6 linked regions of the Homo sapiens genome follow. The protein of the gene in region 4 purifies or fractionates together with the protein of the main gene of each other region. This does not show direct contact. Each region holds a gene or a part of one and is shown on either strand. Other genes may lie near its edges. The genes, in order: PRTN3, TRIM44, MNDA, SMIM8, SEMA6B and LCP1.

Evidence for each region.
Region 1: the proteins of SMIM8 (region 4) and PRTN3 purify together in Homo sapiens (affinity purification with mass spectrometry; one large-scale study listed by BioGRID and IntAct). This does not show direct contact.
Region 2: the proteins of SMIM8 (region 4) and TRIM44 purify together in Homo sapiens (co-immunoprecipitation; one large-scale study listed by IntAct). This does not show direct contact.
Region 3: the proteins of SMIM8 (region 4) and MNDA purify together in Homo sapiens (affinity purification with mass spectrometry; one large-scale study listed by BioGRID and IntAct). This does not show direct contact.
Region 5: the proteins of SMIM8 (region 4) and SEMA6B purify together in Homo sapiens (co-immunoprecipitation; one large-scale study listed by IntAct). This does not show direct contact.
Region 6: the proteins of SMIM8 (region 4) and LCP1 purify together in Homo sapiens (affinity purification with mass spectrometry; one large-scale study listed by BioGRID and IntAct). This does not show direct contact.

Annotation. Positions count from the first base shown.
Region 1 is NC_000019.10:841,928-846,407, reverse strand, and holds part of PRTN3 (myeloblastin precursor), read right to left. Parts: intron 2,948-4,480; coding exon 2,782-2,947; intron 2,516-2,781; coding exon 2,374-2,515; intron 262-2,373; coding exon 31-261; intron 1-30. UniProt on the Homo sapiens protein: Serine protease that degrades elastin, fibronectin, laminin, vitronectin, and collagen types I, III, and IV (in vitro).
Region 2 is NC_000011.10:35,814,881-35,819,889, reverse strand, and holds the end of TRIM44 (tripartite motif-containing protein 44), read right to left. Parts: 3' UTR 1,883-5,009; downstream 1-1,882. UniProt on the Homo sapiens protein: May play a role in the process of differentiation and maturation of neuronal cells. May regulate the activity of TRIM17. Is a negative regulator of PAX6 expression.
Region 3 is NC_000001.11:158,837,115-158,842,756, forward strand, and holds part of MNDA (myeloid cell nuclear differentiation antigen), read left to right. Parts: intron 1-3,200; exon of another isoform or gene 3,201-3,282; intron 3,283-5,019; 5' UTR 5,020-5,039; coding exon 5,040-5,304; intron 5,305-5,642. UniProt on the Homo sapiens protein: May act as a transcriptional activator/repressor in the myeloid lineage. Plays a role in the granulocyte/monocyte cell-specific response to interferon. Stimulates the DNA binding of the transcriptional repressor protein YY1.
Region 4 is NC_000006.12:87,328,223-87,333,864, reverse strand, and holds part of SMIM8 (small integral membrane protein 8), read right to left. Parts: intron 4,728-5,642; exon of another isoform or gene 4,587-4,727; intron 3,174-4,586; 5' UTR 3,153-3,173; intron 1-3,152.
Region 5 is NC_000019.10:4,544,928-4,550,569, forward strand, and holds part of SEMA6B (semaphorin-6B precursor), read right to left. Parts: intron 5,346-5,642; coding exon 5,196-5,345; intron 3,519-5,195; coding exon 3,336-3,518; intron 3,247-3,335; coding exon 3,100-3,246; intron 1,543-3,099; coding exon 1,465-1,542; intron 1,348-1,464; coding exon 1,289-1,347; intron 1-1,288. UniProt on the Homo sapiens protein: Functions as a cell surface repellent for mossy fibers of developing neurons in the hippocampus where it plays a role in axon guidance.
Region 6 is NC_000013.11:46,124,373-46,128,892, forward strand, and holds the end of LCP1 (plastin-2), read right to left. Parts: intron 3,352-4,520; coding exon 3,219-3,351; 3' UTR 1,551-3,218; downstream 1-1,550.

The sequences.
Region 1 (4,480 bases), on a different chromosome or scaffold from region 4:
GGTGCCCGGGGTGGGGGCACGGTTACTTACGAAGCAGATGCCGGCCTTGCGGCGAGGGACGAAAGTGCAAATGTTATGTGGCCGGCAGAAGAAGGTGACCACGGTGACATTGAGCTCCTGCAGGACCTGGGCTGGGGGGTCGTGGGCACCCACGCGGCCCCAGCCCATGGCCAGGCACTGGGTGCCGTGGGGCACTGGCTGGTCCTGCTGTGGCAGCTGGACTGTGGCGACGGAGGCACTGAGGTTGGCTGGGCTGCTCAGCTGGGGCAGAAGGCAGGCGGCGGTGAGACGCTGCTTCCAGGTCACGGTGGCCGCCCGGGCCGCCCTCCCACCACACCCACCACACCCACCACCTCAAAACGCCGCGGATGCCGCTCCCTCCGCCTGGGCCCCACGACCCCCTTTGTCCCATTTGTCACTATTGTATTCATTCATTTTCTTTCCTTCTTTCTTTCTTTTGAGATGGAGTCTTGCTCTGCCACCCAGGCTGGAATGCAGTGGCGTGATCTCGGCTCACTGGAACCTCCCGGAGCCATCCCATTGGGTGAGGTGGCCAGCCTGGTCTCAAACTCCCAACCTCAAGTGATCTGCCTTCCTCAGCCTCCGAAAGTGCTGGGATTACAAGTGTGAGCCATAGTGCCCGGCCATTCATTCATGTTTTCTTTCTTTCTTTCTTTTCTTTTTTTTTTTTTTGAGATGGAGTTTCGCTCTTGTTGCCCAGGCTAGAGTGCAGTGGCACAATCTCGGCTCACTGCAACCTCTGCCTCCTGGGTTCAAGCAATTCTGCTGCCTCAGCCTCCCAAGTAGCTGGGACTACAGACACCTGCCGTCACGCCCAGCTAATTTTTGTATTTTTAGTAGACACGGGGTTTGCCATATCGATCAGGCTGGTCTCAAACTCCTGACCTCAGGCGATCCGCCCGCCTCGGCCTCCCAAAGTGCTGGGATTACAGCCACCGCCCCTGGCCCATTCATTCATCTTCAAAGCACTTTTTTTTTGAGATGGGGTCTTGCTCTGTCGCCGAGGCTGGAGTGTGGTGGCATGATCACAGCTCACTGCAGCCTCAACCTCCTGGGCTCAAGTGATCCTCCCATCTCAGCTCATGAGTGGCTTGGCGTGTGCTACCATGCCCGGTTGATTTTTAAATTTTTCTTTTGTAGGCTGGACGCGGTGGCTCTCTCCTATAATCCCAGCACTTTGGGAGGCTGAGGAGAGCAGATCACTTGAGGTCAGGAGTTCGAGACCAGCCTGGCCAACGTGGCAAAACACCGTCTCTACTAAAAATACAAAAATTAGCCAAGCGTGTTGGTGCATGCCTGTAATCCCAGCTACTCAGGAGGCTGAGGCAGGAGAATTACTTGAACCTGGAAGGCAGAGGTGGCAGTGAGCCGAGATTGCACCACTGCACTCCAGCCTGGATGACTGAGTGAGACTCTGTCTAAAAAAAAAAAAAAAAAAAATGTCTTTTATAGAGATGGGGTCTCACTAGGTTGGTCAGGCTGCTCCCAAACTCCTGGCCTCAAGTGATCCTCCCATCCCAGCCTCCCAAAGTACTGGGAGTACAGGCGTGAGCCACAGTGCCCAGCCCCAAGCACTTACTGAGCACCACCTGTATGCCCAGTCCCGTTCTAAGCCACATGAGTCCAATAACGAACAACACAGACAAAAATCCTCTGCCCTGGGGAGCTGATCTTTCTGGGTGGGAGGAGGCTAGGAGGGCCCCATGAATGAGAGGAGCACGCGGTTCAGTGGAGAACAGTGAATCGGGGAGGGCTGTGGCTGTCCTCGCCACTTCCAGTGAGGTCAGGGGAGGCGCCGGAGGAGGCGAGGGCACCTGGCTTTCTGGGGGAACAGCACACCGGGCGGAGGCGCAGGCAGGGGAGAGGGGCAGGCAGGGGAGAGGCGCGCAGGGGAGAGGCGCGGGCGGGGGAGAGGCGCGGGCGGGGGAGAGGAGCGGCCGGGGGAGAGGCGCGGGCAGGGGAGAGGCGCGCAGGGGAGAGGCGCGGGCAGGGGAGAGGGGCGGGCAAGGGAGAGGCATGCAGGGGAGAGGCGCGGGCAGGGGAGAGGGGCGGGCAAGGGAGAGGCGCGGGCGGGGGAGAGGCGCGGGCGGGGGAGAGGCGCGGGCGGGGGAGAGGCGCGCAGGGGAGAGGCGCGGGCGGGGGAGAGGCGCGGGCGGGGGAGAGGCGGGGAGGAGGAGTGGCCTGGTGTCCAAGGAGCGGTCTCCCCCGGCCAGTGCCACTGGACCCAGGCTGCAGCGGCCTCGGTCGTGGCCCGGTATACAGTGGGTGCTCAATGAATGCTGGCTGCAGGAATGGGGGTCCCGGAGCCCTCTGGCCGTGCCCCTCCGAGCCCTCGCGGCCCTGCCCGCCCACCTGGATGAGGAGAACGTCGTTCAGTTTGTTCTCCGCGTCGTAGTTGTTCAGAAACACCTGAGCCACCGAGAAGTGCTGCTGGGTGGGCTCCTGCGTCCGCACGTTGTGGGCTCCGAGCACCACGTTCACCAGGCGCTGGGGTCTGCGGGGGTGGGGTGGTCACTCCTCGGCGCCCTGGACACTCGCCGCCGCCCACAGCCGGCCCTTCCCGAGGCCGCGGTGCAGCCCCAGACCCCTCCCTCGGCGACCCTGCCCCGGGCCTCCCCCCAGAACTGCCCACGCGCGCGGGGCCTGGGGTCTGCAGACGGGGCTTAGCTGGGTCCTCCCCGGGCAGAGGGACAGTGGCCGGGCCAGGGCTGGAGGAAGAGGGCGGGGCGGGCGGACAGGGGTGTGGAGGCGGCCGCTCACATGTCCCGCAGGCAGTGCGCGGCCGTCAGCACGAAGCTGGGGTGGATCAAGGTGCCTCCGCAGAAGTGGCTGCCCGGGTTCCCCCGCATCTGCAGGGAGGCCATGTAGGGCCGGGAGTGTGGCTGCGCCTCGTGCCCGCCCACGATCTCCGCAGCTCGGGCAGCACCTGCAGGGGGGGAGTCCAGGCGTCAGGGAGCCCCCAGGCTGCAGGGAAAGGGGGGATGGCAGAGCAGCCCCTGGGCCTCTCCGAGCCTCCGTCTCCCGATCTGCAACCCGGTCAGTGCCTGCTGGCTGGTGGGAAGGACTCAGCGCCCAGGCCGGGGGGGTTATAATTACGACGATTTCCAAAGGCGCCCTGGTGGCAGCTTTCAGTCCTGAGAGTCAGGAAGGCTTTTAAGACGCAGACCAGGTGGCTGGGTGCAGTGGCTCACGCCTGTAATCCCAACACTTTGGGAGGCCGAGGCAGGAGGCTCCCTTGAGCTCAGGAGTTCAAGACCAGCCTGGGCAAAATTGTGAGGACCCCATCTCTACAAAAAATTTTAAAATTAGCCAGGCATGGTGGTGTGCACCTGTCGTCCCAGCTACTTGGGAGGCTGAGGAGGGAGGATCGCTTGAGCCCAGGAGGTCAAGGCTGCAGTGAACTGAGATCACACCACTGCACTCCAGCCTGGGCAACAGAGCAAGACCCTGTCTCTAAAACAAAATTTAAAAAAATGTTTTTAAAGAAGCAGAAAAATTGGTCGGGTGCGGTTGGCCCACGCCTGTAATCCCAATACTTTGGGAGGCCGAGGTGGGTGGATCACCTGAGGTCAAGAGATGGAGACCATCCTGGCCAACATGGTGAAACCCTGTCTCTACTAAAAATACAAACATTAGCTGGGCGTGGTGGCACGTGCCTGTAGTCCCAGCTACTCCGGAGGTTGACGCAGGAGAATCGCTTGAACCCAGGAAGCGGAGGTTGTGGTGAGCCAAGATCGCCCCACTGCACTCCAGCCTGGCAACAGAATGACACTCCGTCTCAAAAAAAAAAAAAAAAAAAATTAGCCAGGTGTGGTGGTTCGCACCTGTAATCTCAGCTGCCTGGGAGGCTGAGGCAGGAGAATCGCTTGAACCCAGGAGGCACAGGTTGCAGTGAGCCGAGATCACACCACTGCACTCCAGCCTGGGCAACAGAGTGAGATTCTGTCTCAAAAAAAAAAAAAAAAAAAAAAAATCCTGGGCGCAGTGGCTCATGCCTGAGTGAGACCCCATCTCAAAAAAACAAAACAAAACAAAATAAAAAAAAAGAAGCAAAAAAAAAAAAAAAAATCAGCCAACAAAGAGACCCATTTTGCAGATGAACAAACTGAGGCATTGAAAATCCCCCTCAGGTCAGGAGTTCGAGACCAGCCTGACCAACGTGGTGAAACCCCATCTCTACTAAAAATACAAAAACTAGCCAGGTGTGGTGGTGTGTGCTTGTAATCCCAGCTACTCAAGAGGCGGAGGCAGGAGAATCATTTGACCCCAGGAGGCTGAGGCTGCAGTAAACTGAGATTGCACCACTGCACTCCAGCCTGGGCGACAGAGCAAGATTCCGTTTCAAAAAAGAAAAAAAAAGGGCCAGGCGCGGTGGCTCACGCCTGTAATCCCAGCACTTTGGGAGGCTGAGGCAGGCGGATCACGAAGTCAGGAGATCGAGACCATCCTGGCTAACACC
Region 2 (5,009 bases), on a different chromosome or scaffold from region 4:
GGTTGATCCAATTCAAGGCCATACTTTGGTTGTGCATTTCTAAAAACAAAGTCACTTGATAGGTGTGAAACATCACAATGAAAACTGGGAGCCAATCAGGCAATAGCTTTTTCCAGGCATGTTTGTTGTCCATGAGCTCTTCTAGATGAAGCTCCTTTATTTCTGGGAGAGGAGTAGGAGGAAGCTGAGGAAAGGGATGAGGAAGAGACAGGAAAGAGAGCTGCCCCAGTAAGTGGGGATATTTATTCTTTATCATTGCTAAATGCTCTTGTTACCTTCTGGTGGGTCTAATAATCTCCTAAGAAAATACCACTCTTGTGTCTCTTCTTACTTGGAAGTTCATGAACTCTGTACGAGACAGCCGGTGACCACATGGGGAGTGTTGTGATCTGGGTGTCACGCATACTTTCTAGATGAGGAGTGGGCTCCTCACTAAATCACCAGCCTGATCACCACACACACAACATATGACCAGTTTGTTGGGGGAGGGGGTTGCAGTGCTGCAAAAACCTCACTAATGAGATGGACAAAACTGCACTTCCAAGAACTCCTTTCAGGGAGGTAATTGTATGGGATTGGAAGAAATAATTTGAAAGCCATTTGGAAGTGGATAGGGTGAGACCCCAAAAAGGTTAGGCTGGAATAACAACAGATGGTCCCTAAATGGTCTTCTAAAAAGAGGGCCCGGGCTTTTATTTCTGTGAGTGTGGTAAGCAGGTGGGGACACAGACTCCAGCTCCCTACCCCACACCTGCCTCCATCTTCTCTAAATAAATGTTGACCTAATATCTAAACAATAGCAGTTTGGAGGGGTGCCAAGTCATTATTCTTCCTGATATGCCTATATTTCCCTCTGGTGTTGCACACACACACCTACTCTTACTACACCTCCCACCCCCATGTTGCTGCCTGTCACACACTGATAGCCCCACAAGGCACCTGACGGTTCCTCTGATGCCTCAGGCTAACATATCAGGGAAGGCATTTGAGAATGTTTCATGGTGAACACTGTTAAGAGGCCAGATACAAACTGCCACCTTTAGTGGCCTTCCACCTCAGTTTCCCAGTCACCATTCGTTTGAGTCAAGAGGCTTCCCATGCACAAGGCTTACTGGGCACCTGAATACCCTGGTGATCAGTATATCGATGCGGTAGAGATCTTAATCAAGCAGGTCAGTGCTGTTTTATTCTTTACTATCACTCAAGAGTATGACAATAGTGAGCCTGGAATGTAACCTGGAAAAGAGAACCAGGAGGGAGGGAGGAAAGAAGAGAGAGAGAGAGAGGAAGAGAGAGAGAACCATAGCTTGTCAGCGCTGCACCCCATATTACCGACGGCACCACACTGACAAAGAAGCTTGCACTATGCTGAACGTTAATGTCTGTGCAAGTCCTGAGACAGAGAATTGCAGCCTATCAAACTCTTCCCTTTAGAATCAAGGGAGAAACCTTGGGATGTCTCCTAGAATGTTCTAATGTGGGCTCTTGAGTCACTAAACAGACATTCTCTTCTGGGATGCAGTGGTCAAATATGGAGAACTCAGCTTTCCCAATAGCCAGGTGACCTTAAGCAAATCCTTGAATCTCTTTGGGCCTTTGTTCTCTCAACAGTTAACTCAGGAAGAGTTAGATTCATCTCTAAATCAGTGTTTCCTAAAATTGTTACACAGAACTGCCAGAAAACTAGAAAATTGTTACATGAAAGCTCTACAATGCACGTGAACATATTAAAAGCTCCCAGAAATTCTACAGGGAAGAAACCTATTTAACTTTGTTTGGCCCACTGTTTTGCTTCCCAGTTTATTTGACTGTGGTACATTTTTTTTTTTCGTGGTGTATTAGTCCGTTCTTTCACTGCTATAAAGAAACACCTGAGACTGCATAATTCATAAAGAGGTTTAATTGGCTCACAGTTCTGCAGGCTGCACAGCAAGCATGATGCTGGCATCTGCTCAGCTTCTAGGGAGGCTTCAGGAAACTTACAATCATGGTGGAAGGCAAAGGGGGAGTGAGCACTTTACATGGCCAGAGCAGAAGGAAGGTGGGGGGAGGTGTCACATATTTTTAAACAACCAGATCTCACAAGAACTCACTATCATGACAACAAAGGGCGGATGTTGTTAAATCATGAGAAAACTCCCCCATGATCCAATCTTCCCACCAGGTCCCACCTCCAGCATTGGGGATTACATTTCAACATGAGATTTGGGTGGGGACACAGAGGCAAACCATATCACATGGCTTGTGCACATTTGGAGCAGTACTAGTCTCCATGAAGTCTACATATGGATTCAGCTTTCCTTGTATAGCTTCCACACACATGCATACACACCCACAGACACACACAAATGCTAACACACACGGAGAGAAAAAAGATGACTTGGGACTCTTAGAGGAACAATTTTTCTGTTATCACTGTCCTTTTTACTTTGCTAAGATCTTACCGTGTTAGAGGTGGAAGAGAAAAGAGAGATCCTCCAATGTCTCTGACCCTACCCGTCATTTTAGGCGCATGTAGAGAGAGAACATGATGTGCCAAATGCCACACAACTTGTCAGTGGCAGAGCAGGGATGGGAGTGAGGCTTCTCAACTCTCTTCCCTCTTTTCATGGGAAAAGAAGGTGCCTTTTGGTGGTGCCACCTGCTTTGGACACTCATTCTGGGGTAGATGTAGCTAAAGGTATCTTTCAGTTTTCTGCATGAAGATATAATATCTGGAGTACCTCTGGATATGGGCATTATCAAGATGTCAGTCAGTTTAAGTCCATAAATTTGAACATCTACTCTGTCAGGCGACTTTGTCATCATTAGTAATATAGGAGCAAACGACTAATACAACCTTCAAAGAGTTACAGACATCAACCTTATGAACAAGTAAATACATACGGTAATTTGAGGTACTTACCGTTGATATGAAAAAGTACATGGGGATGTGGTACAGAGGGCTATGAAACAGCCATGGGGAGCATCTAGAGGTGAGCAGAGCAGCTCAGTGAGGGGCAACATGAAGGTGGCTCCATCTACTGAATCTCTAACAGGACTCCAGCACAACAGTCAGAAGCTACCATTTCTAAGTGCTTACTATGTGTCAGGCACTGTACTAAGCCCTGTAGACCATCTGCTCATTTAATTGTTCAGAGTTAGTAAAGAACAAAGCCAGTACTAAAACCAAGTCTGTATGCTTCTAAAACCTAGTATCAGGAGCAAGCTTGTCCCATTTTCCAAAGACAGAAGACGGCACATTGCTCTTTTTTGTGAAGATGCAACACTAGGGTCAAGTGGTTCACAATGTTAACAGTTTCCTCCCAACAATTTAGTCTAAATTTTACTTTTCACTCCATTCCATTACTCTTAGGTCTACCCTCTAGAGACCCTTCTGTTCCCCAATTACACACATAAAATCAATTACATTGTATTATCTGATGCCAGTTGTGTTTATACTGTAGAAGGCAGAAAAGTGTTTTTATGAGTGGAGATTGTTTTTCCATTCTGTTCCTTCCCAGGGGGGATCTAAATACTCTTTTTGAAGTTAGACATTGTGTGTGGTTTTGGAGCTGAGTTGGGAAGAGGATGGATACGCACCACACCTTATTTATTTTCTCTTCTGTGAAACAGTCTCAGCTGTTTTTTTTTCTCACAAATTCAATTTCTTACTCTTGAAGAATGACCCAAGCTGAGAAATTTCCCAAACATCTGAAATCTGAGAATTTGTGCCTGGAATCCATGAGGCTCATGGTTTCCAGATGGAAAGGCCGGAAGAATAGGAGGCGGAGGAGTAGAGGCAGGGTGGAGTGATAAAAGGGAGGGGGAGCCTGAACTTTGGATCACTTCTGACTGCCTTGTGAACTAGGCCAGGTCCCTTATTTGCTCTGCAAGTCTGCCATTTGACAATGGGCCAGGTCTGAAGATAGACAGCAGTTTTGCATGTCCTCATGAGGCTGTTTCAGTGATTATTAGAAGTAAGTCATTGTAAAATTGTCTTTTTCTGAAGGCAGTGACTGAAAGCAAACAAGCCCATGACTTGGCTATTCAGAGGGGCATAAACACTCCAGATGGATTTTCTCATTGTCCCAGAAATGGCAAAAGACAGACCATTCTAGGAATCCTGGCTTCTTTATACCACTTAAACATATGCAATGGCAGATGCCCCGGTGACCTAATTCTTCCACGTCTTGTCCTCATAATAGAGGTAAGAGAAAGAGATTAACAGGAAAGCTTGTTTTGAGTACATAACAGTCAAGTATAATTTGGCCACAAGTGGGCTAGGTATACTCTCAGAGGAATGCCTTTATTTGATCAGACAGGTCAGAATCTTCCAGGGAAAATATTAATTTGGGGAAAATAGATCAGAACCTACTTGTTATCAAATGGGAAATTGGCTTGAGTGTTGAGAAATACCCATTTTTATTGTTATCAGTGGTTTGTCATCCTCCCCACCTGAAACTACCCTACTGACACTCCCTATTGCCCTACTATCACCAAGTCAAAGAGCAATCTTGTTCCTCTATCATAGTTCTTCCTACTTAGAAGCTGAATTTCATACTAGGATACAGCCATCCAACTGGGTCTAAAAGGTCTCATAATGTGTGGAGAGAAACCAAATATAGAAAAGTTACTTCCAATTAACACCTCTAATCTCCAGATGTCCTAATAAAAACAGTGAGGCAACAAATGGCCACCCTCAAGCCAGAGAACCATACTTGGACTCAAATGTTTTTAAGAGCCAGGGAAAGTAGCTAACCTCCTCTTAATTTGATCTCCTGGCCTGGGACATATAAATGTTTAACTACACTCTGGCTTAGGGAGGAAAGCAAGCAGAGGTGAATGTATCCTGTAGTGGCATGGCTTCAACAGAGCATTTGTCTCACCCTGAAATATGAAGGAGCAATGCCTGCCTCCTCAAGCTGAGCAGTGCCCAGAATTTATGAACTTCAAGTATGATGTGAATCTGGGGTCCGAGCCAGGCATTATCATTGGGAAGTGGTGGACAATTTCCCTCTCCCTCCCTC
Region 3 (5,642 bases), on a different chromosome or scaffold from region 4:
TTGTGGTATATGTTGGGACAATGTTCCATATGTTCGTGTGAAAAATGTGTATTCTACTGTTGTTGGCTTTACTGTTTTGGATATATCTGTTAGATATAATTGGTCTATAAGTGGTCTATAATGTTTTTCAATATTTATTTTTTCCAAATTTTCTTCTGTCAGATTGTTCTACCTATTATTGAAAGTGGAACATTAAAGTCTCTTACTATTACCTTAGAGTTGTCTATTTCTCCCTTCAATTCTGTAAATGTTTCATATATTAGGAGCCCTGATGTTTTGTGCATGTATGTTTCTAATTGTCATATCTTCTAGGTGAACTGGCCTTTTTAACACTATGTAATATTCTTTGTCTCTTATAACACTTTTTGACTGTTATTTTTATTTTATCTGATCCTAGTATAGCAAACTCTGCTCTCTTATTTAATATTTCAATGGAATATCTCTTTTATTCCTTCACTTTCTATCTTTGTCCTTACATCTGTAAAATGAGCCTCTTGTATGCAACATATACTTGGATCCCCTGTTTTTAAATTCATTGTGATATATATGTATATATAATTTTAATATGCTTTTTGATTAGTAAGTTTAAACCATTTACATTTGAACTAATTATTGATAAGGAAGAACTTAGAACTTATTGTTGCCATTTTTTATTTGTTTTCTGTATGTCTTAATAGGTTTTTGTCTCTTAGTGACTTCTTTTTGTTGATTTTTTTCTGTAGTGAAACATTTTTATGTTCTTCTATTCCTTTGTGTACATCCTACAGATATCTCTGTGGTCATCATCAGGTTGCATATGATATTCTAAAGTTATAGCAATCTATTTTTAACTAATAACAACTTAACTTCAATCATATGCAAAATGTTTACTCCTTTACAGCTCCCCAACACATATTTTATGTTAATATTACAAATTGCATTTATATAATATGTACCAATTAACATTGATTTATAAATTGTTTTGCTTTCACATTTTAAATCCTATAAAATAATAAAAAATGATTACAAATCAAAATAGCAAAAGTCATGTTTCATGTTTATGTATATACTTACCTTTCATCAAGAACTTACATTTTTGTATGAGTTTGAGTTACCATCTAGCATCCTTGTGTTTCAGCTTGAAGAAATCTCTTTAGTATTTCTTTTAAGGTAGATATAGTGGTAATGAAATCCTTCAGCTTATGTTTATCTGGGAATGTCTTAATTTCTCTCATTTATGAATAGCAGGTTTCCCAGATATAGCATTTTTGATGGACAGACTTTTCTTTAAACACTTGAAATGTATTGTCCCACTACCTTCTGGTCTACAAAGTATTTGCTGAAAAATGTGCTCATAATCCTATTGAAGATTTCTTGGATATAATGAGTTGCCTTTTTCTTGCGCTTTTTAAATGATTTTCTTTTCGTCTTTGAGTGTTGGTAATTTGATAATAATGTGTCATAGTGTAAGTTTCTTTGAGTTTATCATAGTTGCAGCTTGTTTGGTTTCTTATATCTGTACATTTAGTCTTTTCTCAAATTTGGAAAGTTTTCAGTCCTTATTTACTCAATAATTTTGTTATTCCTTTCTCTTTTCCATCACCTTTTCAGACTTACATAATGCATATATTGTCCCACTTGATGAACTTTATAAGTTCTGTTCACTTTCCTTTATATCTTTTAAAAAAGTTTGTTCTTCAGCCTTGATAATTACACATGACCTGTCTAAAAGCTAACTGATTCTTCTGCCTATTGGTGTGGGCTGAGGAACCCCTCTAGTGGATTTTACAATGCAGTCAATGTGTTTTTCAGCTTCAGAATTTATGGAATTTTTTCTGGTAATTTCTATTTTTTGTCTATTCTCATTTTTTATTAATCATTTTCCTGATTTTATTTAGTTGTCTCTACCTATTTTCCTTTAACTCATTTATCATATTTAAGAGTGCTGTTTTAGTCTTTGACAAGAAAGTCTGAGGGCTGTGTTTCTTTAGAGAAAGTTTGTGGAGATTCATTTTTTTCTTTAAAATTGACCATGTTTACCTGTTTCTTTGTATACCTTTTGTTGAAAACTGGACATTTGTAAAAACAGCCCCCTCTCAACCATTGTTAACTGGCACCATATTCAGGGGAGGACTTTCACTCTTCAGCTAAGTATGAAATATAAACGTTCTCTGAGGCCTATATGGACGTGTGTCTTGCCTGGGCTTATGTGTGTGCATTTTTTGTAATTCTCTCATATACACACTGCTTTTAATCTGTAATTTCCCTAAGAGCCACACCTGCCTCTTTTCATGACCTTAGATGTTCTACTGTATTCCTCTATCCATAATCTCTTGCCTTCTGGCACCCAGGGAGTAGCAGATCCCATGAAGCTCTCACAAGCTGGAGCACCCACCACTACTTTTTGCAGCCTCAAATCTGACATTTAAACTATGCCACCATTTCCATCAATGCTCCAAGTCATGTGAAGCAGTTACTAGTCCCTCAAGGAACCTACAGAGAAGCTATAATGTTGCAAAGCAGTTCCACACTTTTCCTTCTATTCCAAAGGAAGAATGAGGAATTAGGAAGTTTCCTCCTGATCACGTCACACCATTCAAGGGAGAAAGTTAAACAGGGACAAAGAAAAACACCTAGAAGTTTTCCACTATTTTGAATGTGGCTTAATCTTGGTTTGGAATTTCCTTTGTTGCAACCAATTCTTAACAGCTGAAAACATTAGTTTGGTTCATAAATTGTTCTTTATTTGGTGTTTCCATGGTATAATGAAAGTCTGGAACGTCCTTGTCTGCAATCTTGCTAATGTCACTCTCAGTGAGAAGAGAACAATTTTTTAAACCATAACATTCAAATAACATTTTGACCAGATACAAAATTTTAGTTTGAAAAATATTTTTGCTTGAAAACTGATTCACAGCACTTCACCTGAAACCCCTGGGACAACTCTGATTTTTAATTCATTTTTTTAGGGGGGGATTTTAGAAAGACTACTTAATGCATACATTGTATGTAGGCACTGCAAGTGTCCCAGTAGAGGTAATATCAACATCCTAATATCAAATGCATTAAGAGTTCTTCAACAAATCATGCCACTATTCACATTAAAGTGAGATGAATAAGGAAGATTAAAAATAGCCACTGTATTAGTTCCTTCTCACGCTGCTATGAAGAAATACCTGAGACTGGGTAATTTATAAAGAAAAGAGATTTGATTTACTCACAGTTCCGCACGGCTGGGGAGTCCTAAGGAAACTTACAATCATGATGGAAGGCACCTCTTCACAGGGTGGCAGGAGAGAGAATGAGTGCTAGCAGGGGAAATGCCTGATGTTTATAAAACCATAGATCTCATGAGAACTTGCTCACTATCACAAGATGATATTTCAAGATGAGATTTGGGTTGGGACATAGCCAAACCATATCAGCCACGTATTACTTCACATTATATCTCTAATTTGCAAGATGATTTTGCTACCACACTTCCCTGCTAACTCTCATCCCTTCCCAAGCCCCCAAACCGCACAAATCTTTTCATCCTTCAGTATCTTCTTAGGTTTTAAAATTGCAGACATATAATTATGGATCAGTACTATGTAAAAATTACTTTCTTAACCTGCTGCAGACTGTTCAATCAGATTATTTAATCTTTGTAGGTGTTCTACTCAGTATTTCTGGAAGATTTTATCATTTTGCTTTTAATATTCTTTGGCTTTACTATATGTGCCCATGTGTGAAATTTCTCTTTATCTGATAGGTTTAAACACAGGAACACTCATGTTCTCCCAAAAGAGAACAATTTACAGCCCTAAGAATTTGGACACTCTAATTATATAAAAGTTGCACAAACACATGGTCACCAACCTAAAGGAATACCTATAAATTTAAACAGAAAATTGGAATATACGTTAGGAACTGAATGCCCTTAGGTAGTACACAAGGGGTTAAAGAGGCACACATAAGTGAGAGTGGGACCACAACAGCTCGCAGAAGATAAAGCCTCAATTAAGCATTAAAAACTCTAAGGAAGTATTCAGAGGAAGAAAACTGGGAATGCTTTCCCAGATAGCAGGAAGGGAATTAGCAGTAAGAAGACCTGAAAAAGAAAGACATATTGTGTATTTCTAGAGCATAAGGTATAAGAAATTCAAAAGTAACAGACACACACAAAAAGAAAGATACAGTTTATGCAAGGCCTTTCAAGTCATGCTGAGTAGAAATCTATACTAATAAAAATCAAAACTCATTGAAGGATTTCAGGAAAAATAGAGTCATGTCTTTATCCATAAAGAAACCTACTTGGTTGTCTGACAGAAACCTTTTAGTAAAAGTAAGACTAGTTGGAGGTAAATAATTGACTGTAAAAAACAAATGTGCAAAAAATAAATGCTGCAATTCCACACTAGAGAGCAGATAGGAGGATGGCAAAATGACAATTTTATAGATGCATAGGACACAGAGAACAAGTTCTAAGCCCCAGGGAGAAAAAGTGCTAACGAGAGCTGATTAGGGAGAGCCAAGAAGGACTAGAGTCCATTCCACAACTCAGAACTGTAGTGCTGTGGCAGAAGGTTATTCACATAAGGTGAGTGGCTGCAGCCCATTTATACTTAGGCCACTTTGGTCATAGTGGATGACCAGGAAGAATCAGGGAAGAATCAGGGAAGAATCAGGAACCAAGAGGTAGGCATTGAGGGATAGGCTCAGGCCCCAATAAAATATCAGAAGAGGAACCAGGGACTTTGACACCACAAAACCCATACTATAAATACTGCAACAATTACCTGTTTCCAAACATCATTTCACCACATACACCTCTGTCCCAACTTATCAACATTAAAAGGGAAGAACTTCACTGAACCTCCTAATAAAGCAAGTCTTGATCCATTGTTCACAGTGACATATCTGGTAACTTAGTCCCTTTTTCTTATACGCATCCAAGGACAACATTTTGGCCTGGGACACTCACTCACAAAAGCATATCTCATTTTTTAAAATTGTCTGCATAAATGTGTAATGTTGTGTGTCATTTTTACTTTATAGGCCAAGCTATAACATCAGAAATGGTGAATGAATACAAGAAAATTCTTTTGCTGAAAGGATTTGAGCTCATGGATGATTATCATTTTACATCAATTAAGTCCTTACTGGCCTATGATTTAGGACTAACTACAAAAATGCAAGAGGAATACAACAGAATTAAGATTACAGATTTGATGGAAAAAAAGTTCCAAGGCGTTGCCTGTCTAGACAAACTAATAGAACTTGCCAAAGATATGCCATCACTTAAAAACCTTGTTAACAATCTTCGAAAAGAGAAGTCAAAAGGTAATAGAGAAAACCTTGCACATAGCTACTCTGCCTTGAGTCTCCCCAGTCTTCAGTAGAACCCCACCTTGGTCATAGCTGGTACATCCCTTTTCCAATTTATAACTCAGCAGTCATGGGGATGTTGGCACCTCAGAGACTGACCAGTTGGCAATTTAGAACATTCTGTTTCATATGAAAGAGATTGATATATTTAGAAGAATGTATTTGAGGTAAGGATAAAAAACCAAAGACAGGGATTTATGAGACGGTGAGTGTTTCAGTAAATCAAAAATGTCAGAAAATGAAAAAAAAAGCTACTTTAAAAAATGTGTTTTATTTGAAATATTTATATTTAA
Region 4 (5,642 bases):
AATGACGCAAGAAGAGACTAACACAATTCCTAAGGTTGGCAAAAATCCAATGCTTTCTACAGCACAGTTACATGCCCATTTCTTGCATGAACCTGATATCATGCAAAAACAGTGATAAAAGGGACCTCACATTCACTTTTGCTTTAGTCCCAGAATCCCTTTTTAAACTTTCTCTTCAATCTTGGCTCAATCTTTCAAAAATGTGAACAATGTTGGGGTAGTGGTGTTAAATTCCTTTGCTATTTCTCCTTTGTTGTGGCAGCAATCTACTGCTTCCACTACTACCATTTTTTTCTTCTAATGAGAACTGCTGGTGTTTCATTTTTCTTCTCTTAGCCACGATGGTGTTTATAAAGGTATTTAGAATTTAAGTAACAAATGTTGGCCACCAGGTGCCTATAACAGGTGTCAGTGATGTTTCTCCCTGTGCTAAAAACTTGTTTGACTATAAACGTGGGTGCTATAGTTTGGGTATTTGTCTCCCAAACCTCACGTTGAAATCTGACCTCCAATGTCGGAGGTGAGGCCTAGTGGGAGGTGTTTGGGTCATGGGGGTGGATCCCTCATGAATAGATTAATACCCTTCCTCGGGGAGCGTGGGGAGCAAGTGAGTTCTCACTCTATTAGTCCCCTGGAGAGCTGGTTGTTAAAAAGAGCCTAGCACCTCCCCTCTCTTTCTTGCTTCCTCTCTTACCATGTGATCTCTGCACATGCCAGATCACCATCACCTTCCACCATGAGTGGAGGCAACCTGAGCCCCTCACCAGAAACAGAGGCTGACACCATGCTTCCTGTACAGCCTGCAGAACCATGAACCAAATAAACTTCTTTTCTTCATAAATTGCCCAGCCTCAGTATTCCTTTATAGCAACACAAATGGGCTAAGATAGGAAAAGAAAATGCAAAATGAAGCAGTCATTAAAGTGGAAGCAGTATTATAGTCTGTCAACAGCCAAACCTATAAGGAACATTAGGAAGAAAATAGCCCATGGCCATGTTATTAGGGCTGAATCTCAGCCTCAGAGTGTGCCACTACATGAAACTGAGGCATTAGATAAAAATACTACAAAGGCCTGAAAAAGCAAATATACAAAGGTAAAAGTCATTGTAACCAGAAACTGACATAAACAGCATTTTTCCAAGGTGATGGAAAAGATGGGTATAGAAGTTCATATTGCAGAGCACAGAAGGGTCCTCAGAGCATAGTTTATTACATATACTTTGTGTGGATGATAATGTGCCAGGAATTGAGGAGGATGAACTCACTCCACACCTGATGTCCAAAATTATATAAAATTATGTTACATATAATTATATATTAATTATATGTAATTTATTAACATAATAAATTATATATTAAACAATAATGTAATATACAATTTACATTATATATTATTATTACTCCACTCCTGGGGTATATAAAATTATATACTGTATATAATTTTGGACTTCAGGTGTGGAGTGAGTTAATCATCCCCTCAGGGAGGGCATTAATCTATTCAGAAGGGATCTGCTGTCATTTATATATATATATATACATATATGGGGGGGGAGGAGAGGAGGAGAAAGAGAAAGAGAGAGACTAGTTACAACTAACAAAAATGTCAGTATTTTAAAATTAAATGGATGCAGTGATGCTGAGTGTTATGAAATTCAACCTATATGAAATATGTCTGTAAAAAACTATATAGTTATATAGCATTCTAACACTAATTGTGATGACTTAATTTTATTTGTAAGATTGCTTGATCTCCTTTTTTCCTTAGCAGAACCTATATTTCCTTTATAATGAATCAATAAAATAATCAGGGTAGTATTTGTTATATTGCAACTCCCAGACACTCACATTTACCTTAATAATTCACTGTTTATGTTAAACTCTGCTAGAAATGACAGAATATTTTGACTGGAAACTCACATGTATATTTTTAAAAGATTTAATATACCACAATTTCCACTGTTACTGACACTTTCTGGAAAGTATGAGAGTAACATTTTCTATTATTTATCATTCTTTTATTAGAAGTGGGATAAAACAGCTCAGTTTTATTGCTGCTTCTCCTTTATGAGCCACAGTCACTGATGATACAACAATTCTCCCAAAATTCCATGAACTTATTTACACCATCTATCAAACTAAGACTTTTTAACAACCATCTATACTTTGTTAAAAAAAATTCAGATTACTGAGACCAGAAAGGGTCTTAGCAGCCAAGAATTTGTTATATATAACTATTTTAAAAACAACAACAAAAACAAAAACAAAATCTTTTCTACATACGAGAAAATTCTTCTGTATTTGTTCACATGCCAGCCCACAGAGCTGTACAAGTATGGCTGACGAATAAATTCAAGATGTGCCAGGAATAAATAAAACAGGTAGAATGCAAAACCTTAGTCATTTCTTCACACATGTATAAATTGTTTTGGGGAAAACAAATCTGTATTTTAACAAGTAAACTTTTAATCCTGAAGTTTAAGTTGACTAGCTGTTTTCAAGTACAAAACTAATACAAGTTTCAATTTTAAAAGCTGCAGAACTAATCATAAAGTCAAGGCATGGCAATAACTTACTCTGACATTACCACTCACCTAAGACAAAACCAGTTAATGTCCAGCACACTTCCATCAGAACTTTCTTAGTCTTCCCACTAGTTTCTCCACCTTCTTCTCTTACTTTTTGTTTCCACTGCAGCTGTCACTCATTTACTTACATATGATATTGACCAATCTCTAGTTATTATCACTTTGAGGATCTATTTATTTTTAAGCTGCATTTAAAAACCTCATTTACTGTGTTAAAACAGTAATGACATAAAACATACATACACATAGATTAGCAAGGATGCTGGGAACCTGGCATTACACTGCTCTTGGCTAAGTAATTTTGTGATTAATTTGTGTGCGGGCCTACCTGCAAAATAATTAATCAGGCACCCCTGGCTGTGCAATCTGCCCCACTCTTATTTCTTCTTCATTTTTCCATCACCCACTTCTTGTTCCCTTTTCCATGCATGATTAAGAAACTGTTATTTATCTTTTCTTAAAAAAAAAAATAGAGGAGAGTAGAACATTTCACAGGTGCCTGTAAAAAAGGTCTAAACTAAGGGGTATTTGCTTCATTTGTTTCTCTCTGGTAAAATGTTCTTTACCTTTTTCTTCTGTCCATCCTCCTGTGACGGAAGCGTGCAATGGAAAAAGGAAGAAGCAAAGATAAAGGACTGCCCGTTTACCCAACTCCATGAGAGTCATTTACATCTCAAAGTGTAAGAATAGTAAGCCCCTGAAATTAATAACACACAATGTGAGAGGCTGTACAGATGGTCCTACACCGAGAGTCAGGACTAGTCATTTTTGAATGATTTTCCCTTCTTTAGCAAAATTCTTGCTCAGGGAGTTATTCCAGAATACTTGACTACCTATTAATATATTGTACATGCAAATTAGACTAAGATATAAAGAATATAAGAATTACTTTGAGGGAAACACTTAATCTTCAAACATACATTTTAGAAATAAGCACCTCAATAGAAGACAAAACAAAATGACCAGAATCATAAAATGTTAACGAGCAGGAACCTTATTAATAATGAAAGCATTTCCTTTAAAAGACAGAGAATTATAAAATGGGCAAAATATTTTAATGAAAGTATAATACACTTTTTTATAGTTTCACATGCCACATTATCTTAATACTTAAGAAACTAACTTGAACTTTGGGGCAGAAAACCTTAAAAATAATTTAAATTAGTTTAAACAAGTTTGGGATAGAATCAGAGGACTTCATGGCTTGAGGGGAAACATAGCATAACCTCAGATTCTCACTTTGCTACTTATAAGCTGTGTGTCTTTAAGTGACAACTCTGATTCTCAGTTTCTACCTTTATAAAAGGAGCAATACTATCTATTGCATAGATAGGTACTAAATGTGTGCATTAATTAAGATGACACATTTTAAAAGATGCAGATGTTCAATGAATGGTAGCTACTTTCATACTCACCATTTAGTCTAACTCCCCCTTCTAAACCCCTTTCTGAGAAACCCAGACCCAAGGAGATGTCCTTACCAGGAGGGTGCGATCACCTAGGTCTCCCAATTACCAGCCCACCAATATTTCACCACCTCACCCCATCTTACTCTTGAATTGATAAAAGGCCTTTGCATGTATATTACAATATTTAAGAAAAAAAATTATAATCACTTAAGTTTTAAAAATTGATTATATATATGTTGTTTTTAAGGTAAAACATACTTTCTAAAAAAGTATCTTTCCTGCCGGGCAGGGTGGCTCACGCCTGCAATCCCAGCACTCTGGGAGGCCGAAGCGGGTAGATTGCTTGAGGTCAGGATCACTTGAGGTCAGGAGTTTGAAACTAGCGTAGCCAATATGGTGAAACCCCGTCTCTACTAAAAATACAAAAATTAGCTGGGTGTGGTGGTGCGGGCCTGTAATCCCAGCTCCTCGGGAGGCTGAGGCAGAATAATCGCCTGAACCCAGGAGGTGAAGGTTGCAGTGAGCCGAGATCGTGCCACTGCACTCCAGCCTGGGCGACAGAGCGAAACTCTGTCTAAAAACAAAACAAGAGGGGAGGAGCCAAGATGGCTGAATAGGAACAGCTCCGGTCTACAGCTCCCAGAGTGAGCAACGCAGAAGATGGGTGATTTCTGCATTTCCAGTCGAGGTACCGGGTTCATCTCACTAGGGAGTGCCAGACACTGGGCGCAGGTAAGTGGGTGCGCGCACCATGTGAGAGCCGAAGCAGGGCGAGGCATTGCCTCACTCGGGAAGTGCAAGGGGTCAGGGAGTTCCCTCTCCTAGTCAAAGAAAAGGGTGACAGACGGCACATGGAAAATCGGGTCACTCCCACCCGAATCCTGCGCTTTTCCGACGGGCTTAAAAAATGGCGCACCACGAGATTATATCCCGCACGTGGTTCGGAGGGTCCTACGCCCACGGAGTCTGGCTGATTGCTAGCACAGCAGTCTGAGATCAAACTGCAAGGCGGCAGTGAGGCTGGGGGAGGGGCGCCCGCCATTGCCCAGGCTTGCTTAGGTAAACAAAGCAGCTGGGAAGCTCGAACTGGGTGGAGCCCACCACAGCTCAAGGAGGCCTGCCTGCCTCTGTAGGCTCCACCTCTGGGGGCAGGGCACAGACAAACAAAAAGACAGCAGTATCCTCTGCAGACTTAAATGTCCCTGTCTGACAGCTTTGAAGAGAGCAGTGGTTCTCCCAGCACGCAGCTGGAGATCTGAGAACAGGCAGACTGCCTCCTCAAGTGGGTCCCTGACCCCTGACCCCCGAGCAGCCTAACTGGGAGGCAGCCTCCAGCAGGGGCAGACTGATACCTCACACGGCCGGGTACTCCAACAGACCTGAAGCTTACGGTCCTGTCTGTTAGAAGGAAAACTAACAAACAGAAAGGACATCCACACCAAAAACCCATCTGTACATCACCATCAACAAAGACAAAAAGTAGATAAAACCACAAAGATGGGGAAAAAACAGAGCAGAAAAACTGGAAACTCTAAAAAGCAGAGTGCCTCTCCTCCTCCAAAGGAACGCAGTTCCTCACGAGCAACGGAACAAAGTTGGACGGAGAATGACTTTGACGAGCTGAGAGAAGGCTTCACACGATCAAAT
Region 5 (5,642 bases), on a different chromosome or scaffold from region 4:
GGCCTTATTTTTATTATTTTTTAATTTTTTTTGTTTGTTTGTTTTGAGACAGTCCCCCAGGCTAGAGTGCAGTGGTAAAGCTCACTGCAACCCTGCCTCCAGCTACCTGTTTGTTTTATTAAAGACAGGATCTGGGCCAGGCATGATGGCTCACACCCATAATCCTAGCATTTTGTGAGGCTGAGGCAGGAGATCACCTGAGGTCAGAAGTTTGAGACCAGCCTGGCCAACAAGTGAAACCCATCTCTACTAAAAATACAAATTTTAGCCGGACATGGTGGTGTGCGCCTGTAATCTCAGCTACTTGGGAGGCTGAGGCAGGAGAATCAATTGAACCCGGGAGGTGGAGGTTGCAGTGAGCTGAGATCACACTACTGCACTCCAGCCTGGGTGACAGAGCAAGACTCTGTCTCAAAAAAAAAAAAAAAAGACATGTTCTCACTCTGTTGCCCAAGCTGGAGTACAGTGGCCTGATCACAGCTCATTGCAGCCTCCACCTCCCTGGGCTCAAGCGATCCTCCCGCCTCAGCCTCCCAAGTAGCTGGAACTACAGGCATGCACTGCCACGTCTGGATTATTTTTGGGTTTTTGTTTTAGAGACAGGGTTTCACTATATTCCCCAGGCTGGTCTCAAACTCCTGACCTCAAGTGATCGTCCTGTCTTGGCCTCTCAAAATGCTGGGATTATAGGCAGGAGCTGCCGCGCCTGGCCCCTTCTGTCCTGTTGAAGTTGGTCTGTCTGCCTTCTGTTGTCTCTTCGTCCTTGCCAAAGCCTGCCTGTTTCTTGGTGTCTCTGTTCTTCCCCTATCTCCCTCCCCAATAAATGAGATGAGACCACCCCATGCCTTTCTTTTCTTTTTTTGAGACGGAGTCTTGCTCTGTCGTCCAGGCTGGAGTGCAGTGGCGTGATCTTGGCTCACTGCAGGCTCTGCCTCCCGGATTCACGCCATTCTCCTGCCTCAGCCTCCCGAGTAGCTGGGACTACAGGCGCCCGCCACCACGCCCGGCTAATTTTTTGTATTTTTAGTAGAGACGGGGTTTCACCGTGTTAGCCAGGATGGTCTAGATCTCCTGACCTCGTGATCCACCCACCTTGGCCTCCCAAAGTGCTGGGATTACAGGCGTGAGCCACCGCGCCCGGCCCACCCCATGCCTTTCTAAAGTTCTCTGATGGAGTCCAGTTTCCCCACCCACCTCCCAGAGGATTCGAGGGTCCTCCAGCCTCCTCCCTCCCCTCCCCCATGGTAGTGGGGGATGGGGGTCTTAGCCTGCCGTCCCCCCAACTCACCTGTGCAGTCCCCTAAGCCTGAGGTGCTGGCCCCGGACACGTCCTGCTCAAAGGCGGCTCTAATGGGGAGAGGAGGCACCGTCAGCAGAGGCCCCTCTCACAGTCAGAGATCAGGGGGATCTGGGATCATGGGCGGGTCTGACACACCCTCCACCCACCTCCCTCTCCCGCAGTACCTGGTGCCCGGGCTGAGGAAGATGCAGGAGCCGTCGGGGGCCCACCCGCAGTAGGGGTCCTGACTGCCGATACAGTTCCTAGAGCAGACCAGGGACCGAATGGGACAAGTGTCCAAGTCACTTACACAACCCCAATGGTGATGGTGACCTGTGGGCCCTGTTCCAAGCACCTGCCTCTTTATTTTTATTTTAATTAATTAATTTTTGAGACGGAATTTCGCTCTTGTTGTTTATTTATTTAGTTATTTTTGAGATGGAATTTCGCTCTTGTCGCCCAGGCTGGAGTGCAGTGGCGGGATTTTGGTTCACTGCAACCTCCGCCTCCCGGGTTCAAGCGATTCTCCTGCCTCAGCCCCCCGAGTAGCTGGGATTACAGGCACGCGCCACCATACTTAGCTAATTTTTGCATTTTTATCAGAGACAGGGTTTCACCAGGTTGGTCTTGAACTCCTGACCTCAAGTGATCCACCCGCCTCGGACTCCCAAAGTGGTGGGATTACAGGTGTGAGCCACCACGGCTGGCGTTTTCTTATTTTAAAATTAAAAAAATTTTTTTAAATTAAAATTTAATTTTTTTTTTCTTTAAGAGACAGGGTCATGCTCTGTCACCCAGGCTGGAGTACAGTGTCATGATCATAGTTCACTGCAGCCTCAACCTCCCAGGCTCAAGTGATCCTCCTGCCTCAGCTTTCTGGGTAGCTGGGACCACAGGTGTGTGCCACCACGCCCAGCTGATTTTTGCATTTTTTTTTTTTTTAGAGACAGGCTCTCACTATGCTGTGTTGCCCAGGCTGGTCTCGAACTCCTCGGCTCAAGGAGTCCTCCTGCCTTGGCCTCCCAAGTGCTGGGATGACAGACGTGAGCTACCAAGCCCAGTCCCTCTTCTTAATAGCAACTTCTGGAGTCCTTAGAACAAATCTGTGTGCAGGGCACTGTTCACTCCCCACTTTACAGATAAGCAAACTGACGCTCCAGAAAGTAAATGTTTGCCCAAGTGGCAGAGCTGAGATGGGAGCCCAGGCATCGTGCCAGAGGCTGTGCCCTTGGACTCGGAGCTACTGGGTCATTGTTGCAATAACGGCGGGCAGGAAGCAGGGTCCTCCGCATTGACGGCTCACATGGAGTGCAGGCGTGTGCCAGCACTGGCATGCATCCTAGCTTTCCTCCCATTTTAGAGACGGGGAAACAGCCTCCACCCTGGTCCCTGGTTCTCCTTCCCCTGCAGTCTCCTCCTGGCAGCAGCCACCAGAGGGCACCTGTAAGCACCTGAGTCAGGGCCAGTCCCTCCTCTGCCTGCAACCCTACATGGCTCCCATCTCCTTCAAGGTCAAAGCCCAAGTCCTCCCCGAGGCTCACAAAGCTCTGCACAAACTGCCTCGTCCTCTCCCATCCCCTCCCCGTCCTCCCCTCCTCCCTCACTCCCCCTTGCTCACTGTGCTCCAGCCACACCGGCCACCTTGCTGTTCTTCCAACACACCAGGAGTGGTCCTGCCCGCGGGCCTTTGCACGGGCCATGCCCTCTGCCCAGCTCAATGACCAGGACATCATTGGGCTTTTGACTGGAACCCAGCTGTCCCTCCCTGTGCCCATCCTCCCTTGCTTCCCGCCCACGGCTGGCCTGGGGTGGACACTCACTTCATACACCCCGAGTACTGCTGGCAGCGAGCCACAGGCACTCGGACCACGCAGCGGGGGAAGGCAGCCAGCAGGCCCCCCGAAGCTGCGTCCAGCTCCAAGCTCAGCAGCCGCTGCCCTGTCTCGCCACCGCCGGGCCGTCCACACCTGGGGACAAGCAGAGTGGTGAGGCTGAGCGCATCTCAGCCCATCTCCCCTCCTGCTGGCGACCCCTTCCCACCTTTGCCCAGACTTACCTGTCCGGCCGGTAGGTCTCAAACTCCTCCAGGAAGACACTGAGCCCAGACGTCCCTGAGGTGCTGGCATTGGGCCGGACGAGGAACTTGAGGACCGTCCCCGCCTCAGAACCCAGGAAGACAACGGTCTGGTTGCCCCAGGGGCCGGCTCCCACGTCCACAGCCACTCGAGTCAGCTGGTGCCTGGGGGACAGGGCAGGGGAGGGTCAGGCTGGCCCCATATCACCACATGCCACCAACACGGGCATGGCCATAGTTACACGGGTGCATACAGACACTGACACACCAACACATGTGACAGCAATAAATGCGTGTGTGCATGGATGCCGGGGACATGCGTGACTACACAGGCACGTGGGCACACTCGCCCTTTTTTGAAACATAACCCCAAACCAGGCTCTCCTCAGCCCTGTCTCTTTGGTTGAGATGGAGTCTCACTCTGTCACCCAGGCTGGAGTGCAGTGGCGCAATCTCAGCTCATTGCAACCTCCGCCTCCCGGGTTCAAGCAATTCTCTTGCCTCAGCCTCCTGAGTAGCAGGGACTACAGGCACACGCCATCACGCCTGGCAAGTTTATGTTTTGTTTTTTTTGAGACAGAGTCTCACTCTGTTGCCCAGGCTGCAGTGTAGTGGCTCGATCTCGCCTCCTGGGTTCAAGCGATTCTCCTGCCTCAGCCTCCCAAGTAGCTGGGACTACAGGCGCACACCACCACACCGAGCTGATTTTCTTTTTTTTGTATTTTTAGTAGAGACAGGGTTTCACCATTTGGCCAGGCTGGTTTCAAACTCCTGACCTCAAGTGATCCTCCCGTCTTAGCCTCTCAAAGTGCTGGGATTACAGGCATGAGCCACTGTGCCCAGCCCCGCTTTCTCCTGATATGTATGTGTGTCTGTGTATCTTTCAGTCTCTTTCTCTCTTTGTCTCTCTTCCCTATCTCTGTCTCTCTGGGTGTCTGTCTGTCTCTGATTGTCTCTCTCCCTGTCTCTCTGTCTCTTTCCCCCTTTGTTCTCCTGGTGTGTGTCTGTCTGTCTACCTCTTTTTTTTTTTTTTTTTTTTTGAGGTGTAGTCTCCCTCTGGCCCCAGGTTGGAGTGCAGTGGCGTGATCTCGGCTCACTGCAACCTCCGCCTCCCGGGTTCAAGTGATTCTCCTGCCTCAGCCTCCCGAGTAGCTGGGACTACAGGCGCCCACCACCACGCCTGGCTAATTTTTGTATTTTATTTTATTTTATTTTTGAGACGGAGTTTCGCTCTTTCGCCCAGGCGGGACTGCAGTGGCGTGATCTTGGCTCACTGCAAGCTCCGCCTCCCGGGTTCATGCCATTCTCCTGCCTCAGCCTCCTGAGTAGCTGGGACTACAGGCGCCTGCCACCACGCCCAGCTAATTTTTTGTATTTTTAGTAGAGACGGGGTTTCACTGTGTTAACCAAGATGGTCTCCATCTCCTGGCCTCGTGATCCGCCTGCCTCGGCCTCCCAAAGTGCTGGGATTACAGGCGTGAGCCACCATGCCCGGCCAATTTTTGTATTTTAAGTAGAGACGAGGTTTCTCCATGTTGGCCAGGGTGGTCTCGAATTCCTGGCCTTAGGTGATCTGGCAGCCTCGGCCTCCCAAAGTGCTGGGATTACAAGCATGAGCCACCGTGCCCAGCCCCATCTGTCACCTCTTGATCCCTCTGTCTCTCTCTTTGTTCTCTCTTTCCTAGTGTCTCTCCATCTTTCCCTCTCTGTCTCTCTGTGTCTCCAGCTCTCTGGGCAGCGCCGGAAGCCATGGGCTCATCTGTGTTGAGCATCTGGATCCTCTCACCCTCCATCTACCCCATCCTGTCTCCCCTCGCCATGCCCTGCCTCTCCAGGACCGACCTCATCAGGGTCCGCAGGATCCAGGGCGCATGGCCCAGCGAGGGCACCGCCTCGTCCATCAGAGGGTGGGTCTTGACAAAGTTGAGGATGTCATCCGGCAAGGCGCTGGAGGCATTGTACTGCATCCCGGGGGCTGCGCAGCACCCGGGCCTGGGGGTGACAAGGGTGTGGTCAGGACGAACGTAAAGGTTCTCATAAAGGGGCCTGATTCACCAGAGGTACCCATTGCTTTGCCCAACGACCCTCAGGTTTTTTGTTTGTTTTGTTTTTGAGACAGAGTCTCAATCTGTCGCCCAGGCTGGAGTGCTTTGGCTCACTGCAACCTCCACCTCCTGGGTTCAAGCGATTCTCCTGCTTCAGCCACCCGAGTGGCTGGGATTACAGGCACGTGCCATCACGCCCGGCTAATTTTTGTATTTTTAGTAGAGACAGGGTTTCGCCATGTTG
Region 6 (4,520 bases), on a different chromosome or scaffold from region 4:
GCTGATTAGGAGGGGAATTTCAGTGCAGTCTAGTACAAATAGAAAGAAACAATATCTATAGCCTCTTGATATGTTGGGAACAGAGTGACCTCCTAAGTATAGAAGGTGCAGCAGTGTTTAGGCCAGGAAGGAGCTACCTCCAAGAAGAAGTTGCTGGTAAAGCCCGGACACACAGCTTAGGCACAAAAGCCCAGCTTCCCATCTGCTGTGTGGGTGGGTGGCTCCTCTGCAGGTCAAAGCGTGATCATGCCAAATCGACGGCCAGCTTCTCTGTCACAGCAGCCTAACTGAGGAAGTTGGCTGCAGCAGAACTCCTCTGCATCCCCGCAGTGCACCCCCACTTCTTCCCAAGTAAGGCCCCGCCAAGCTGGAGAGGAGATCTCGGGCGCTGCTCACCCCAAAGATTCCTCCTCGAATCAGTCTGGACATTGTTTTGCACCAATCCCCAAGTCTGACTTTGGTTTATGATCGGGTTTGTTGGGGCTCAGAAAAAAATGAAACCCCAAAGTGTGGCACTTTGGTGTGCAGAGTACTTTGAACTAAAGGAGACTGGAAAGCCTCCAAGGAAACCTCAGAAACAAGGTCTCCCTCTCCGATCTTCTCCTGCCCTCCTGTCTCCTCCTCTTCTTTCTCCCCTGAAGCAACTCGCAGAAAGCAGAATTCCTCTTTCTCAAGGAGGGTCATAGAAACTAGAACCCCTTTCCCCCAAAGCAAGCCATAAAACCCTAGAAAAATTACTCTAACCTTCCCCTGCCTTTCTGTGTAGACAGTGACGGTAAAGAAATTCTCTGACCTACCTTGCCTGATAGTAGGTAATAAGACCCTCATTCCAGGGGGGTCCTGCCCTGATCCCTGGAGGAAAAAATGCTACAGACTGCAGCCAAGAAGAATCGGAACACACAGGCCTTGCTGGGCTTCCCCTTCCATTTATTAGCCTTAGATCACAGCCTTTTGCCCAATCACATTTCTGCCTGGCCGTTCATTCTGCATTAAATCTAAGCATAAAAATGAACAGTTTTCCTTGGATCTTTGGGTTTTCATTTCTAAAAGCTCCCATGTCATGTAAAACTTTGATGAAAGAAATATGTTACCCTTTTCTCTTGTTACCCATCTTTTGTCATAGTATTGGCCGTGACTCTTATGATAGGTGAGGAAAGGTATCACACCTCTTCACTCCTACAAGTTCAGTGTATTTCTGAGTTTGGCTCTCAGCTTTAATTTTATTCCCTGCTTTGCCTAACGGAAATTTATTCTTCAGTTTTTAGCTAAACTATTTCTCCTCAGACTGTTTCCTGTCATAAACTCATGTCTCACCCTGCCCTTCTTTTTATCACTCGTCACATCTGTTATTTTAATTGTTTAACTTCCGTCTTTCCTAAGACAGGCATCAGCTGAGCACAGTGCCTGTTTAGTTCATAGGCACATTCCTAAAACCTTGCACTGTGCCTTGCACATACTAGGCACTCGAACGTGTTGGAGGAATGAATGAATGAACGATTTATAGCACACTGTCAGCAAACTTTCAAAATGAAACATCCAGAGACACCTAATATAGGGAACATTTTATTTGGAAAGATTTTGAGCATCATTCTCTTTTCATTTTTTATTAAGGCAGTAACATTCTTTCTTCCTGGAGGCGGAGGGGGGAAATCATCTGAGGCTACAGTAAGTTCAATCTGAAGTCAAAACCAACCAATTTGTATTCAGAAGCAGCAAAAATACTGGTTATGGGCTGGGAGGAGCCACATGTTGGCTTTCTGAGTCCACTGCCAAGGAACAGATCCAGAGCAATGCATTTCAATTGCTTTGAAAAATGGCTAAGTTCCATTACATACCACCACTAAAGAAGATACCTCATTGATGGAGCTTTTCACCATGATAGAGGGCGTCTTGCATTGGTTCACAATGGCCTGTTGCTTTTTAGCCTTCAGTTGGTTTAGGGGGAAATTGCTCAACCTATGAGACCTGCTCAAATTCATACTGTTCTGGTTTTGCTTTGGAATTCTTTGTCCAGTAAATTAGCTCTTCATAACGCAGTTCCACCATTTCTTATCCAGCATAGATTCATTCTGCCCTTGACAGCTGGCTAGGTGTGTGTGTATGTGAGTAGGGGTGCTATTGATTGGCACATATTGTCCCCCCTGGAGTTTAGGGGTGGCAGAAAGCTTTTATAGTACCAAAAAAGTAAACATTGATAATATGGCCTGACAACAATCAGATATGCTAAGCTCTAGAAGCAAAAGCAAGGTAGGATTGCCTCCAAATGTTGACAGGTATTAGCCATACCACAGTAACTAGATCTAATGTGAGGGCTAAATGCCTGGAGAGGCAGAACCCTAAAGGATGCTTAGTTATAGCTCCATGCTGCCGCCGAGTGGCTTGATGCTCCATTACACCCTCCTTGGATCCAACCTTCCATTAAGGCTGAAGGCTCTAGAGGGCAGAGTATTCAAGATGTTAGATCTGGTCCAAGCCCAAATTCTAGAGTTAAAAGCAGAGGGGTTCTTAGTGGCTGAAAAAAAACAAAACCTGATGACATTTGGGACTCCAGTTTTGAGGAAAGGCTCTGATGATGAGGCTTACTTCTGCAGGCTACCAGAGACTCCTGAGACTTCAACAGCTTGACTGATTTATCACACACTCCAAGTGGCCCAGAGACAAGGACGGCCAGAAGAGATGGGCCCCCCCGGAAGGCATGGTTCCAAAAGTGTGAGGAGCAAAGTCAAGGGAGGCAGGGTAGGAAGAGGGGACAGAAAGAGGGGCTTGCAACAGATCAAATGCTGACCTCCAGGAACAGGGTTTAGGGCAGGTGTGATGTTTCCCCTCCTGGCCCTCATCTTGAACAAAGAAAAGGGAAGCCACATGAAGCTGGTTTGAAAGATTATATCAAAATTAATACCACTGCAGCTTCTATCCTTGGCTAATGGCAAAAGCGAGAAGGGTACCTGGAAAATAACTTCTTTCTTTTCCTCTAGATTTTCGAAGAAGCAAATAAATCAAGAATAGAAACCTATATATAGGAGGTTGGGCCTCCTGCAAAGAATGAAGCACTTTTTGTTAAATACAGGAGAGGCTACTTGGCTGCACTAATATGTGCTTTTTGGAATCTTATAGAGTGTCACCAAGTTGAACTTTGGAATGGCTTGAATCATCCCTGGAGCATCTGTGCCGGGCAGTCAGGAGTGAGTGCACCGCCTCCCACCCAGCCCCATTGGGCCTCACACCCTCTTCATTCCTTTCCCCATGAGGCAGGCAAACACGGTCATGACCATTTTGGGGTTCACTTCAACCAGGTCTTCTGGCAGGGCATACACTCTTGCTCCAATTTTTCGGGCCATAGAGATGGCATATCTAAAAGGGAGAAAAGAGGAAAAATAAGGAGAGCCTGAGAAACACAACACGAATGGGACCCTGGAGGGTCACAGTCACAGTCGTTCCATAGTCAGGACAGAACTCACTCCTGCAGTGGCTGGAGTCAGTCACCAGCATCCTCACACTTTTGTGGACAAATTTTGGCTCAACCAAAGATTCTGACAAAGCATCAGACTTGCTGGCTAGTCTCGTGATCATTATCAAGTGTATTATTTGTCCTTGGAGACCTCTTCAGCTCCTGCCTTTTTTTTAAGTTAAGTTTTTTTTTTTTTTTTTGTAGAGACAGGGGTCTCACTATGTTGCCCAGGCTGGGCTTGAACTCCTGGCCTCAAGAGAAGCTCTTGCCTCAGCCTCCCAAAGCACTGGGATTACAGGTGTGAGCCACTACAGCACGTGCTGCCACTTTTGATACTCACACCAGGAGTATTCTCTTGGGCTACATAGCAGCATAGCAGAAAGAGTCACAGAACTGAATAAACATGTGTGCTAGGAAAAGTTTGCAGACTACATTTCAACTACAGTAACATTTTGACAAGGAACAAAAGAGGAAAAATGTATAATATCCTGACCTTGGCCAGGCGCGGTGGCTCACGCCTGTAATCCCAACACTTCGGGTGGCCGAGGCGGGTGGATCACAAGGTCAGGAGATCGAGACCATCCTGGCCAACATGGTGAAACCCCATCTCTACTAAAAATACAAAAAATTAGCCAGGCGTGGTGGCGTGCGCCTGTAGTCCCAGCTACTCAGGAGGCTGAGGCAGGAGAATCGCTTGAACCCGGGAGGCGGAGGCTGCAGTGAGCCAAGATCGTGCCACTGTAGTCCAGCCTGGGCAACAAAGTGAGACTCCGTCTCAGAAAAAAAAAAAATCCTAGCCTTACACATCAATTTTTTTATTCTTTGTTCCATTCCAATTCTTGCCCACATATATTTGTACTTATTTATGGTACTATAATATAGAGTAGCCAGAGATTTATATTCCATATTTTCACATAGAATGATAATAGCTGCATCAGAACATTTTTGCTCTATTTGTAGATATATGAAGATAAATTTCATTAATTGTAATTTATTTTCAAATGAGCCCACACTACTACCTGGCAGTTCTTTTATTCACCTCGTTTATTATCTAGTGACCTCTTACTATGGT